3 linked regions of the Homo sapiens genome follow. The gene in region 1 interacts genetically with each later gene. Each region holds a gene or a part of one and is shown in the gene's direction. Other genes may lie near its edges. The genes, in order: EZH2, CAND1 and SEC23IP.

What was found.
Region 2: changes in EZH2 (region 1) and CAND1 together harm fitness less than expected from each alone (positive genetic interaction), as found in Homo sapiens cells (one large-scale study listed by BioGRID).
Region 3: changes in EZH2 (region 1) and SEC23IP together harm fitness more than expected from each alone (negative genetic interaction), as found in Homo sapiens cells (one large-scale study listed by BioGRID).

The regions. Positions count from the first base shown.
Region 1 is NC_000007.14:148,814,754-148,818,408, reverse strand, and holds part of EZH2 (histone-lysine N-methyltransferase EZH2), read left to right. Parts: intron 1-291; coding exon 292-532; intron 533-1,017; coding exon 1,018-1,187; intron 1,188-1,630; coding exon 1,631-1,725; intron 1,726-2,454; coding exon of another isoform or gene 2,455-2,461; exon of another isoform or gene 2,462-2,856; intron 2,857-2,862; coding exon 2,863-2,903; intron 2,904-3,369; coding exon 3,370-3,495; intron 3,496-3,655. UniProt on the Homo sapiens protein: Polycomb group (PcG) protein. Catalytic subunit of the PRC2/EED-EZH2 complex, which methylates 'Lys-9' (H3K9me) and 'Lys-27' (H3K27me) of histone H3, leading to transcriptional repression of the affected target gene.
Region 2 is NC_000012.12:67,307,261-67,310,915, forward strand, and holds part of CAND1 (cullin-associated NEDD8-dissociated protein 1), read left to right. Parts: intron 1-136; coding exon 137-232; intron 233-2,640; coding exon 2,641-2,810; intron 2,811-2,891; coding exon 2,892-3,056; intron 3,057-3,655. UniProt on the Homo sapiens protein: Key assembly factor of SCF (SKP1-CUL1-F-box protein) E3 ubiquitin ligase complexes that promotes the exchange of the substrate-recognition F-box subunit in SCF complexes, thereby playing a key role in the cellular repertoire of SCF complexes.
Region 3 is NC_000010.11:119,899,137-119,902,791, forward strand, and holds part of SEC23IP (SEC23-interacting protein), read left to right. Parts: intron 1-3,655. UniProt on the Homo sapiens protein: Plays a role in the organization of endoplasmic reticulum exit sites. Specifically binds to phosphatidylinositol 3-phosphate (PI(3)P), phosphatidylinositol 4-phosphate (PI(4)P) and phosphatidylinositol 5-phosphate (PI(5)P).

The DNA.
Region 1 (3,655 bases):
TAACTTAATTATAACTAGCTAATATATTTTACAAATTCACAATATAGAACTGTCTTGCCTGATTTTTGTACCATTCTAGGAATATATAGAACCCATATTTCTCTTTCTGAAATTTTCAGACTATCAAAAGCATATCAAAACAAGTATATTAGACATGCAAATGATTATTTGTGATAAATGGATAATGTGATACATTTTTTGACTAACCTGGCTTATATAGTATTTTTTTTTCTCTTCCATCAAAATGAGTTTTAGAACTTTGCCCTGATGTTGACATTTTTCATTTCGTAGGAGGGAGCAAAGGAGTTTGCTGCTGCTCTCACCGCTGAGCGGATAAAGACCCCACCAAAACGTCCAGGAGGCCGCAGAAGAGGACGGCTTCCCAATAACAGTAGCAGGCCCAGCACCCCCACCATTAATGTGCTGGAATCAAAGGATACAGACAGTGATAGGGAAGCAGGGACTGAAACGGGGGGAGAGAACAATGATAAAGAAGAAGAAGAGAAGAAAGATGAAACTTCGAGCTCCTCTGGTAAGACACGTCTAATAACTGGGTTTTACTGTTCTGTGAAAGTTCGTGTTGTGAGGATTAAGGATGTATAATGCATTGAATAATTTTCTTAGTTGGTTAGTTTCAGTATAAAGACCAGAGTTATCTCAAGAATGTGTAGCTGTGTTGTTTCTGTTTCCTGCCTGCACCCGTACCCTAGCTTGTGGTGTTTGCCCTGCTTGGTTGTTTGAAAGCTGATGATGCACTTTATTCTCATTCTTTGTGCCATTTTCTTTTTTCGATCTTTCTCAGGTAGGGAATAATGAAATTTGGATCATTTGGTTTAATATTCTTGACGTTCTGTGAGTAGTTTTGTTGGAAAATGTGAACTACGATGGGTTAGTGTTTTGCCGATTGGATTTGAGTTGTCCTCATCTTTTCGCTTTTTTCTTAAGCACACCCTGAATTGTACTTCTTAATATTATTTCCAATCATTTCTTGACCAGTGCTTACATTTGGTTTTGTAGAAGCAAATTCTCGGTGTCAAACACCAATAAAGATGAAGCCAAATATTGAACCTCCTGAGAATGTGGAGTGGAGTGGTGCTGAAGCCTCAATGTTTAGAGTCCTCATTGGCACTTACTATGACAATTTCTGTGCCATTGCTAGGTTAATTGGGACCAAAACATGTAGACAGGTAAGATATCCGATAAAAATGTTGTTAAAAGAGCTTCAAACATAGAGATAAAACTGTACTCGTTGTCCAAACAAAGAAAATTCTTGGTTATTACTAAGCTCCTATTCATCTCCTAAAAATAATTTTTTTTTCTTCCCAAGAGGGAATTGAATGAAAATTATTCTCCAGGTATGTTACAGAATTTCCCCAATGTAGACTTTTAAGGTTAGATAGCAGTAGCTTTTAAAAGCTAGTAAGAATTGAAATTTAGCATCACAGTTCTTGACCAGAATATAATTACAGCTACCCCTAATGTGAGGGTAGGGACAGCGATGTGTGTTATATCCCCAGCATCTAGCAGTGTCACAGAAGAGACAAAGACATTTTTCTGGTATGCATGAGTATAAGAATGGTTTGCCTAAATAAGACTGTCCTCATGGCTCTGTGACTGTGCCTCTTGTCAGGTGTATGAGTTTAGAGTCAAAGAATCTAGCATCATAGCTCCAGCTCCCGCTGAGGATGTGGATACTCCTCCAAGGAAAAAGAAGAGGAAACACCGGTGAGTCTGTCATGAAGCTCCTTAGAGAAGTCAACATAGATAGACACTGCAGGCAAGGCCCTTCCTAAGGGCTGTTGTTGGTTTCTACTTAGTCTATTTTTAAAAAACCTTAAACTGCCATCAAAAACAGAACTATGGAATCTTATTTCCACTGGGAATTGCTAGTATTTTTCTATAAGAATACAGCAGCCTTCAGTATATTTGGTATGTTAAGAGTCATAAAAATTACGGTTACCAGACTGCATTTGGGTTAAGAAAAACATATTTAGTAGCTTTTGCAGTAAAGGTTACGTAAACAATTACTTTAACATCATGAAATGTTCTGTGTTTCTGATGTGAGCTCTGGGCCAGTTTTTAGAAGTATCTTTTATTCCAGGAGCTTGAATTTCTAAGTTGTGTGGCATTGCATTCCGATACTCCTAATGGGTACCCTACTTTAAGCTTGTGTGAATGTTATTTTCACCTTAGCGAATGTTTTCAGGCTGATTTGATTTGTAAATGTAGAACCAGAAAAATTGATGAGTGGACTATCTGCTCTAATCTCCCCATACCTCTACCTCACATTTTTAAAAATGAGAAACCTAATTGGGTAGGTAAGGGTGCAGTTAGATTATGCTTCTTAAATTGTGTACAGGCTCATGTTACATTTTCTTACTTTAACAAAAATAAGTGTAGGGCCAACCCAATTTAGAATTTTTTTAAAGTCAAGTTTTTATTTTTATTTTTTAGGCTTTAGGAGATGCTTCTGAAATTTTGGTTGAATTATTTCTGACCACGTAGTTCACTTGCTTGGTTTATGATGCCTGAAATAAGAGGAAGTGATCAGTGTCATCCACATCAGAATAAATCAACAGGCAGACACACCTGCTGCTTTGTGCAGCATTGGGAGCTCAGGAGTTCTGACCAGGAGTCATGGATGAACACAGGAAATGACGTCTTGCCACACCTGGGGCAGCCTGAGCCATCAAGCTGTTTGAGTTGCTTCAAACTGATGGCAAATATAAACTGGGCAGGGCATGACTCTTGGCTTTAACGCATTCCTGTATTCATGGCACAGATAGATCCAGTTAAGCAGCTCTCTGTTGGATTTGTAGCTTCCCGCAGAAATTTGGTTTAATTTTCTTTGTGTTTTTGCAGGTTGTGGGCTGCACACTGCAGAAAGATACAGCTGAAAAAGGGTTAGCATCTTTCCATTCCTCTCATTATTAGCTTAACAATATCTGCTTTGTTTTCATTTGTTTTAGAATAGTAACTGGATTAGAGCTTGGGTTATTCTAATATAATTGCCTTCTGTATGTTAAACCAATTTGAATGGAGGACGTCTACTGATGAATCCCCAGTCAATTCTCTTCTGTAAAGTGGAGGCTGACTGGAAGGTGTGAGTCCGAGTCAGTTGAAGGAGAAGTGCTTTGGGATGGGACTGAGATGTAGCCGTGCTTTAGATGGAACTCATAAGCACTTGGGGGTGGGAGAGTATTTTTTGCCATCGTTGTGGAAACCGGAATATGTGTAATGTTATGCATTCAGTAAAGGCAGGCCAGCTACACTCCACAGGTAGTAGGGAAGAATGTACTCGTGTTAATTGTGTATGATCGTTTCCATCTCCCTGGATTCATTGGCCTGCATGATGTTATCTTTACTCAGACGGCTCCTCTAACCATGTTTACAACTATCAACCCTGTGATCATCCACGGCAGCCTTGTGACAGTTCGTGCCCTTGTGTGATAGCACAAAATTTTTGTGAAAAGTTTTGTCAATGTAGTTCAGAGTGTAAGTATTTGTTGCTTTGATGCAATTGCATGAGAACTAAATAGGTCTTTGGTTAGCAATTTAAAAAATCAAAAATAAGAACATGGGAGCACTCCCTTGTTTACTTGACGAAACTCATCAATTTGACAAGTATTTATTGAGCCCCATACCTGGCCCTGTG
Region 2 (3,655 bases), on another chromosome or scaffold:
ATAAGAAATACCCTTCTTGGCCAAGGAGAATTCTAAGGCATTGAAGACACTGGTGTTATTTGGAGTGGTTTAAAAATGATGTCCGTGAGTTTTAGTGGACTACATACCAATAGACTTGCAATTTATTTTTAACTAGGCTCATCATATGCCCGAAGCTCAGTGGTTACGGCTGTGAAATTTACAATTTCTGACCATCCACAACCTATTGATCCACTGTTAAAGAACTGCATAGGTAAGTGGAAACAAAGATAAACATACTGATTTTTGGACTTTAGAATTCTCAAGAAACTCTTGAACTTAGTAACTAGAAATATCGAGGAATTAAAATGCTTATAAAATAATTGTTTAAAAGAAAATTGATATGATCTTACAACTTTTAACAAATTGCATTTGCCTGTATTGTTTGTAATTATTCCTAGATGATTTTGCACATAAATGAAGTTATAATATACCAGCATGTCTTTAGAGTCAACTACATATTTGATAGCCATATTTTTGGGGTGACCTAAGATAGCTTTAGTGGATAAAGCAAAAAGATACTAGATTTATATGGCCAGTCTGAAGTTTCTCCCTAGATTTAAATGAGTCTTGCTTGAGCTATTAAGGCCTCAAATTTCAATTATTACTTCTAACACCCAAGGAGATCTATGGAGATTTCCATATTTAAGGTCAAAATAACCTAAGAATAAAAAATAAAGGGGGGGAGAGCTAATTCCCAGAAGAACTAAGAGGAGATAACCCAAGAAAAACTAGGGCTTCTCTATTTCTGTGAAGACAAGAATTAGCTTTTGGGATTATTTCTGATTTTATAACCTCCTTGCATTTTGTTTTTATCATTGGTTTTCCTAGAGTTTGATAATAGCCAAAAACACCTCAGAATTTAGTTTGTTGCTTTCTTGAGGACAGGATAATGGAGATAACCATCAGGGAGGATTGAGGGATTTGGCAAAGAAGCTTTGTAGCTTTGTGCCATTCTTCAGTGTGCCAGAAAGAAAAAAAATACAATATAAAATTTGAACTGCATAGAAAGGGATTGCCAATTCAGAATAAGGAAAGCACAGGCACAAATGGGTTCTATTGCTAGGGCCTAGAAATTATTTAAAGTCTATATGAGAAACAACTTATTGGCATTTCCCCCACACATTTTCTGCTTTGATATGTTTATTGAGGACATTGGTATTATGCAAAATAGGACAGAGGAAGAGGCCCATGCCATATCTCTAGAAATATCTTTCCATGTTGACAGCAGTCAACCAGTATGCATTGTTGATACAGTTACTCAGCCAGGTAGTTAGCATTCTAATTGAATTATGATCTAGTTAAGTATTCATGACTATTTGAACATCAGAACCACCTGGGAAACTTTTTAAAAATTGAAATTGCTAGTTCATGACACCATTTTGTCCATAATAGCAATATTTTAGATGCTTTACTGAAAGCGGATATATACTCTATTGTAATTACTCTTCTAATCTACCAGTTTAGTATGCAAATAAAGGGGAGGGGAGATTAGTTTGGTACATTTATATTGTTTTTGAAACCACGCTGTTTCTCAGACTTTTTTTTTTAAATCAGTGCTGGAACTTTCTTGGATATCAACATTGGGTTTCCCAATCTACAGTATCTGAAGTCTCTCTTTCCTCCCATATTTTCAAATTGCAGGTTTTTCAAGTTGGCATTCAAGTCTTTTATCTCTCCTACATTTCCCTGTGTATTCTAAAAGATTGCTGATGATAGAGTTGAGATCATATAATGATGAATAATAGCTACATGTGAATACTTAGTGTGTACTAGACATTGTCTTCAACAATATATGCGCCGTTTATTCTGCTCAGTATAGCTCTAAAAGGTTTATAATCCTCATTTTATTGACTGAGAAACTGAGGTTCTTGCCTAAAGTAACTTGCACAAAATCATACATTTAACAAGTAAAATGATTTGAACCACCAACCATGTGACTCCAAAGATCTTTGCATTATACTTTCTTGCCCACATTTGCAAGAGTAAGCAGACTTTTAAAATACCTAGATGGCTTCTCTGGCTTTTGTCCTATGTTAGCTTTCAATTTTCTCCTTTTATATTATTTTCCTGTGAATTCGTGTATTTCTTACTGAAGACAGAAATAAAGTAGGGCTTTTGGAGGCACGTTTCTCTTTCATTTGATTAATTGTATATCTGCTAATAGTACTCCATCTTTATTAAGCAGTGGGTCTGTCTTCACTTCATTTTTTTATTCTTATTTTGAACTTAGTTTAAAAATATTTTTGTTGCTGCTTTTAGTGAACTACAAGGAGAATCAAGCATGTGATTAGTCTTTTTAGCTCTGTCTCTGTCATATCTTATATCTATAGAAGTGATATTGAGGAACTTTATGGACTCTTCTTCCATACCCTCTGCATTATAAGTGCTGAGAGTGGATTATCAATTGAAAATATATTCACCTTCAGAAATGATAGTTGCGTTGCTGCTGAAAGAAACGTTATGGTTCACTTAGTGTTTCATCAGGTTCTTCCCTGACCGTCACTGAAGAAATAACAATGACACCAGCAAAAATAAATTATATCAACTTAGAGAAAATATAATGTATATTGTATTTTAAGTTTATCATGTCTGTCTGTTGCTTTTCTTGTAATATTTCAGGTGATTTCCTAAAAACTTTGGAAGACCCAGATTTGAATGTGAGAAGAGTAGCCTTGGTCACATTTAATTCAGCAGCACATAACAAGCCATCATTAATAAGGGATCTATTGGATACTGTTCTTCCACATCTTTACAATGAAACAAAAGTTAGAAAGGAGCTTATAAGAGAGGTAAGTTAGATCACACTGTTTATTTGAGCTTGTCTTTGACTTAAGTATTGTATATCCACACGTTCTTTTTTGCTTTAACAGGTAGAAATGGGTCCATTTAAACATACGGTTGATGATGGTCTGGATATTAGAAAGGCAGCATTTGAGTGTATGTACACACTTCTAGACAGTTGTCTTGATAGACTTGATATCTTTGAATTTCTAAATCATGTTGAAGATGGTTTGAAGGACCATTATGATATTAAGGTAAGATGTTTGTGCCTATTTATACAATGTTTTAGAAGAAGACTTTGCTAGAGCAACTTTCACCCTTGTAATTTACTCATGTGTCTGAGAAAAATCAGGTTGTCTGTGAAGATTTTGATAAGCATATTGTAAACTATAAAGTGCAAAAGTAATAGGCAGTGTAACACCAGTTGACGTGTAAGAAAGATCCAGAGCCCTTTTTATTGGAGGAGGAAGTGGCAGTGGATGCAAAATGCTGTGTGCCCACTTGCTTAGTGAATAGTCCCTAGATCCTTTCCCTCAAAAAAGTCCCGACAGATTTTGCTGTTTAAAGTATAAATCTGTAACTTTTTGGCCTGTCTTAACATTGGACCATAGTTGCTACCCATGGAGGGTTTTCTTAGCATTGTCTTGATTAAGTCTCCTGAGCTACCTTTGGGGCTAGTCTGAATTGTAACTGTATCATTTACCTGAATGAGGAATTTTTGTTTTTCAATATAATATACTGTGTTTAATATCAAGAATTTTGTTATAGGACATGGAACTTTTCAGATATACAAAACAATCTGTAGAAGCTACTTGAGAGAAATCATACTGCGTCTTATGTTTGGATAATGAAT
Region 3 (3,655 bases), on another chromosome or scaffold:
GCTCATATTTTAGTGTATATTACCTGTTTATTGAAGCAGTAACTGATTTTAATGAGTTAGCTACGTGTCAGTATTTCCAGATTTTAGAGTACGGTAAAAATAAGTGTTGTCTAGAGACATAGGAGAATTGAAGCGGTTATTGTCTTAACAGACTGCTAGTTTCTCATCTTTCAATTACACTAGTCAATCAAAACACTCAATTACAGGGACTAAAATTGATTACTTCAGTAATTTCTTTATGGAGTTTGGATCTAGATCAGTCAAACTCTATCTAGGGAGAGTTGGTGGAATAACGTATGCATTGGGTAAATTTCATGAAATTCCCTTATGCATTTTTCCCAACTAATTGTTTATTTGATTTCCAAAGAAAAATCAACAGAATTAAACAAAAAGAGAAATGATTAAAAAGAATTAAGAACCCATTTCAGTGTGGTGGAGATAGCAGTATTGTGATCAGAATGTAACTAACTTCTCTGTTAGAGATAGAGAATGGACTCTGTTTTATCATTTCATTTAAATCATACCAATACACAAATTTTTGACAATGTTGGATTTCGGCATTCTGAAAAGTAACCAGATTCATAGCATGTGGTATATAGTTAGTATTTTTGCTAACTATAACAAACTAATTGTAGTTTGTTGCTTAAATTTTTAAAAAGGTTTTTAGATAAAAGTTTAAAAAATGATAATTTCAAACTTGAAGAAAAGTTGCAAAAATAAAAAGAGTACAAAGAGCACTCTAATATCCTTTACTCAGGTTTACTTATCATTAACATTTCATCCCGTTTGTTTTTTAATTTGTGCATGTGCACACCCTGGCATATGTGAGCCCTCCCTCTTCCCCCATCCCTTTCTCCTGCCCCTTCCTCCTGCTTCTCCTCCTGCCCCTCCCTCTTCCCTCCCTTCCCCTCATCGTTTTTTTCTCTTTCTGTATATATGCAATTTTGGGGGGAATATTTGAAGGTCAGTAAAATACATTATGATTCTTTACTCCTAAATTCCTGGTGTACATTTGCTAAGCATAAGGACATTCTTCTTATGTGCACAGTGCAGCTATGAATCTCAGGAAATTGAGTGTTGATGTAATACTTCAAAATGATTTTTTAGAAATTATATATGTGTATGTATATGTACGTGTGTGTGTATGTGTGTGTGTGTGTGTATATATATATATATAAAATTTTTTTTTTTGAGGCCAGGTCTTGCTCTGTCACTCAGGCTAGAGTGCAGTGGCATGGTAACGGCTCACTGTAGCCTCGAATTCTCAGGTTCAAGTGATCCCCCTACCTCAGCCTCACCAGTAGCTGGGACCACAGGCACATGCTGCCATACCTGGCTAATTTTTTTTTTATGTTTTGTAGAAATGAGGTCTCACTATGTTGCCCAGGCTGGTCACAAACTCCTGGGCTCAAGCAGTCCTCCTGCCTTGACCTCCCAAAGTTCTGGGATTATGGGCTAAATTATATATTTTTTTGAGACTGGGTCTCACTCTGTTGTCCAGGTTGGAATGCAGTGGCGCAATCACAGCTCACCTGCAGTCTCAAACTCCTGGGCCTCAAGTGATCTTCCTGCCTCAGCCTACCAAAGTGCTGGGATTACAGGTGTGAGCCACCACACCTGTCCCAAAATGGTGTCTAATTAAAAAATTTTAAAATAAGTCTAGTCTGATTTTAAAATCGTTTTTGTAGAAAATTTGAAAAATGCAGAATACTCAATTTAATAAAAAATGTCCATAGATAACCACTGTTTTCATTTTGTTATATGTCTTTTTTTGGCAAACATATAATACCTATGGTTTCTATAATCTATTTTTTTTTTGTGTGAACATACTTTAAATGTTACTAAGATTTTTTCTAAAACATTAAAATTTTTTTCTTTTTCTTCTTCTTTTTTTTTTTTTTAAAGAGTGGGGGGGGGGTCTTGCTCTGTCATCCAGGGTGGAGTGCAGTGGTGTGATTACAGCTCACTGCAACCTTGAACTACACTTCAGCCTCAGGAGTAGCTGGGACTACAAGTGTGCCCCACCATGTCCGTGTGATTTTTAGATTTTTTTGTAGAAACGGTATTGCTGTGTTGCTCATGTTGGGCTCAAACTCCTGGCCTCAAATGATCCTCCTTCCTTGGCCTCCCAAAGTTCTGGGATTATAGGTGTGAACCATCGTGTCTATCCTCTAAAACTTTTATTTTTGTTTATTTACTTATTTTTTTTTTTAGCTATCTCCTGCAGAAAGGATATAAGACATTTTTAATGGCGCTGGAGGATCTAGCATTTGAGTTAAATATTATTTAATCAGGTTTCTGTTAGACATTTTGATTATTTCCAGTGATTTCCTATTTTATTTATTTTTTTGCAAACATTCCAAATTTATTAGCTATGATTTTATAATCAACATTATTGAGGTATAATTTACATACAGTAAAAGGCATCCATTTACAGTATACAATTCGATTTATTTAAAGTGTACAATTAGCTGAGTTTTGACAGTTGTACACACCAATTTCCTATTTTAAATAACCTTTTGATGTATATCCTTGGGGATAACTTTTTATTTTTATTTTTTATTTATTGTTTGAGACAGAGTCTCTGTCACTCAGGCTGGAGTGCAGTGGTGCAGTCTCAGCTCACTGCAACCTCCGCCTCCCGGGTTCAAGCGATTCTCCTGCCTCAGCCTCCCAAGTAGCTGGGATTGCAGGCCTGTGCCACCACGCCCAGCTAATTTTTGTATTTTTAGTGGAGACAGGGTTTCACCATGTTGGCCCGGCTTGTCTCGAACTCCTGACCTTAGGTGATCCACCCACCTCAGCCTCCCAAAGTGGCAGGATTACAGGTGTGAGCCACTGCACCTGGGCTATTTGTTTTTATAATTCTATCTTTAGGATAAATTTTTAGAAATGGAATGAGTAGGTCAAGGAGTAGGCACATTTTAAAGGTTAAATAGGCCGGGTGTGGTGGCTCACACCTGTAATCCCAACACTTTGAGAGGTCAAGGCGGGCTGGTCACTTGAGGTTGGGAGTTCGCAACCAGCCTGACCAACCTGGAGAAACCCTGTCTCTACTAAAAATACAAAATTAGCTGAGTGTGGTGGCGCATGCCTGTAATCCCAGCTACTTGGGAGGCTGAGGCAGGAGAATCGCTTGAACTCGGGAGACGGAGGCTGTGCATTGCGCCGTTGCACTCCAGGCTGGGCAAGAAGAGCAAACTCCGCCTCACACACACAAAAAAGGTTAAATAAATCATGGGAGATGTATTGCTAGATTGATTTCTGTAAAGGTGTTAGTTTACTTTGTGTTCTGTGAGAAGGTCTGGTTCACCTTGTAATTGATTTTTTTCTAAATTTTTTAATTTTTAATTTTTGTGGGTACATAGTAGGTATATATGTTTATGGGTTACATGAGATATTTTGATACAGGCATGCAATGTGTAATCATCACATCAGGATAAATGGGGTATAGATATCCCTCACCTCAAGCATTTATCCTTGATTTGGGGTTTTGTTAGGTTTAAAAATTCTTCTTAAAATTGCTTTGGGGTCTAGTTATTACACTAAGTAATTGTCCAGATATACATGTAGGATAATCTACTAACATCAGTTTGGGTGTGAAGCATATTCAGAATTCTTTTGGACAAGCATGACAGTCTTAACTTTGCCGTCC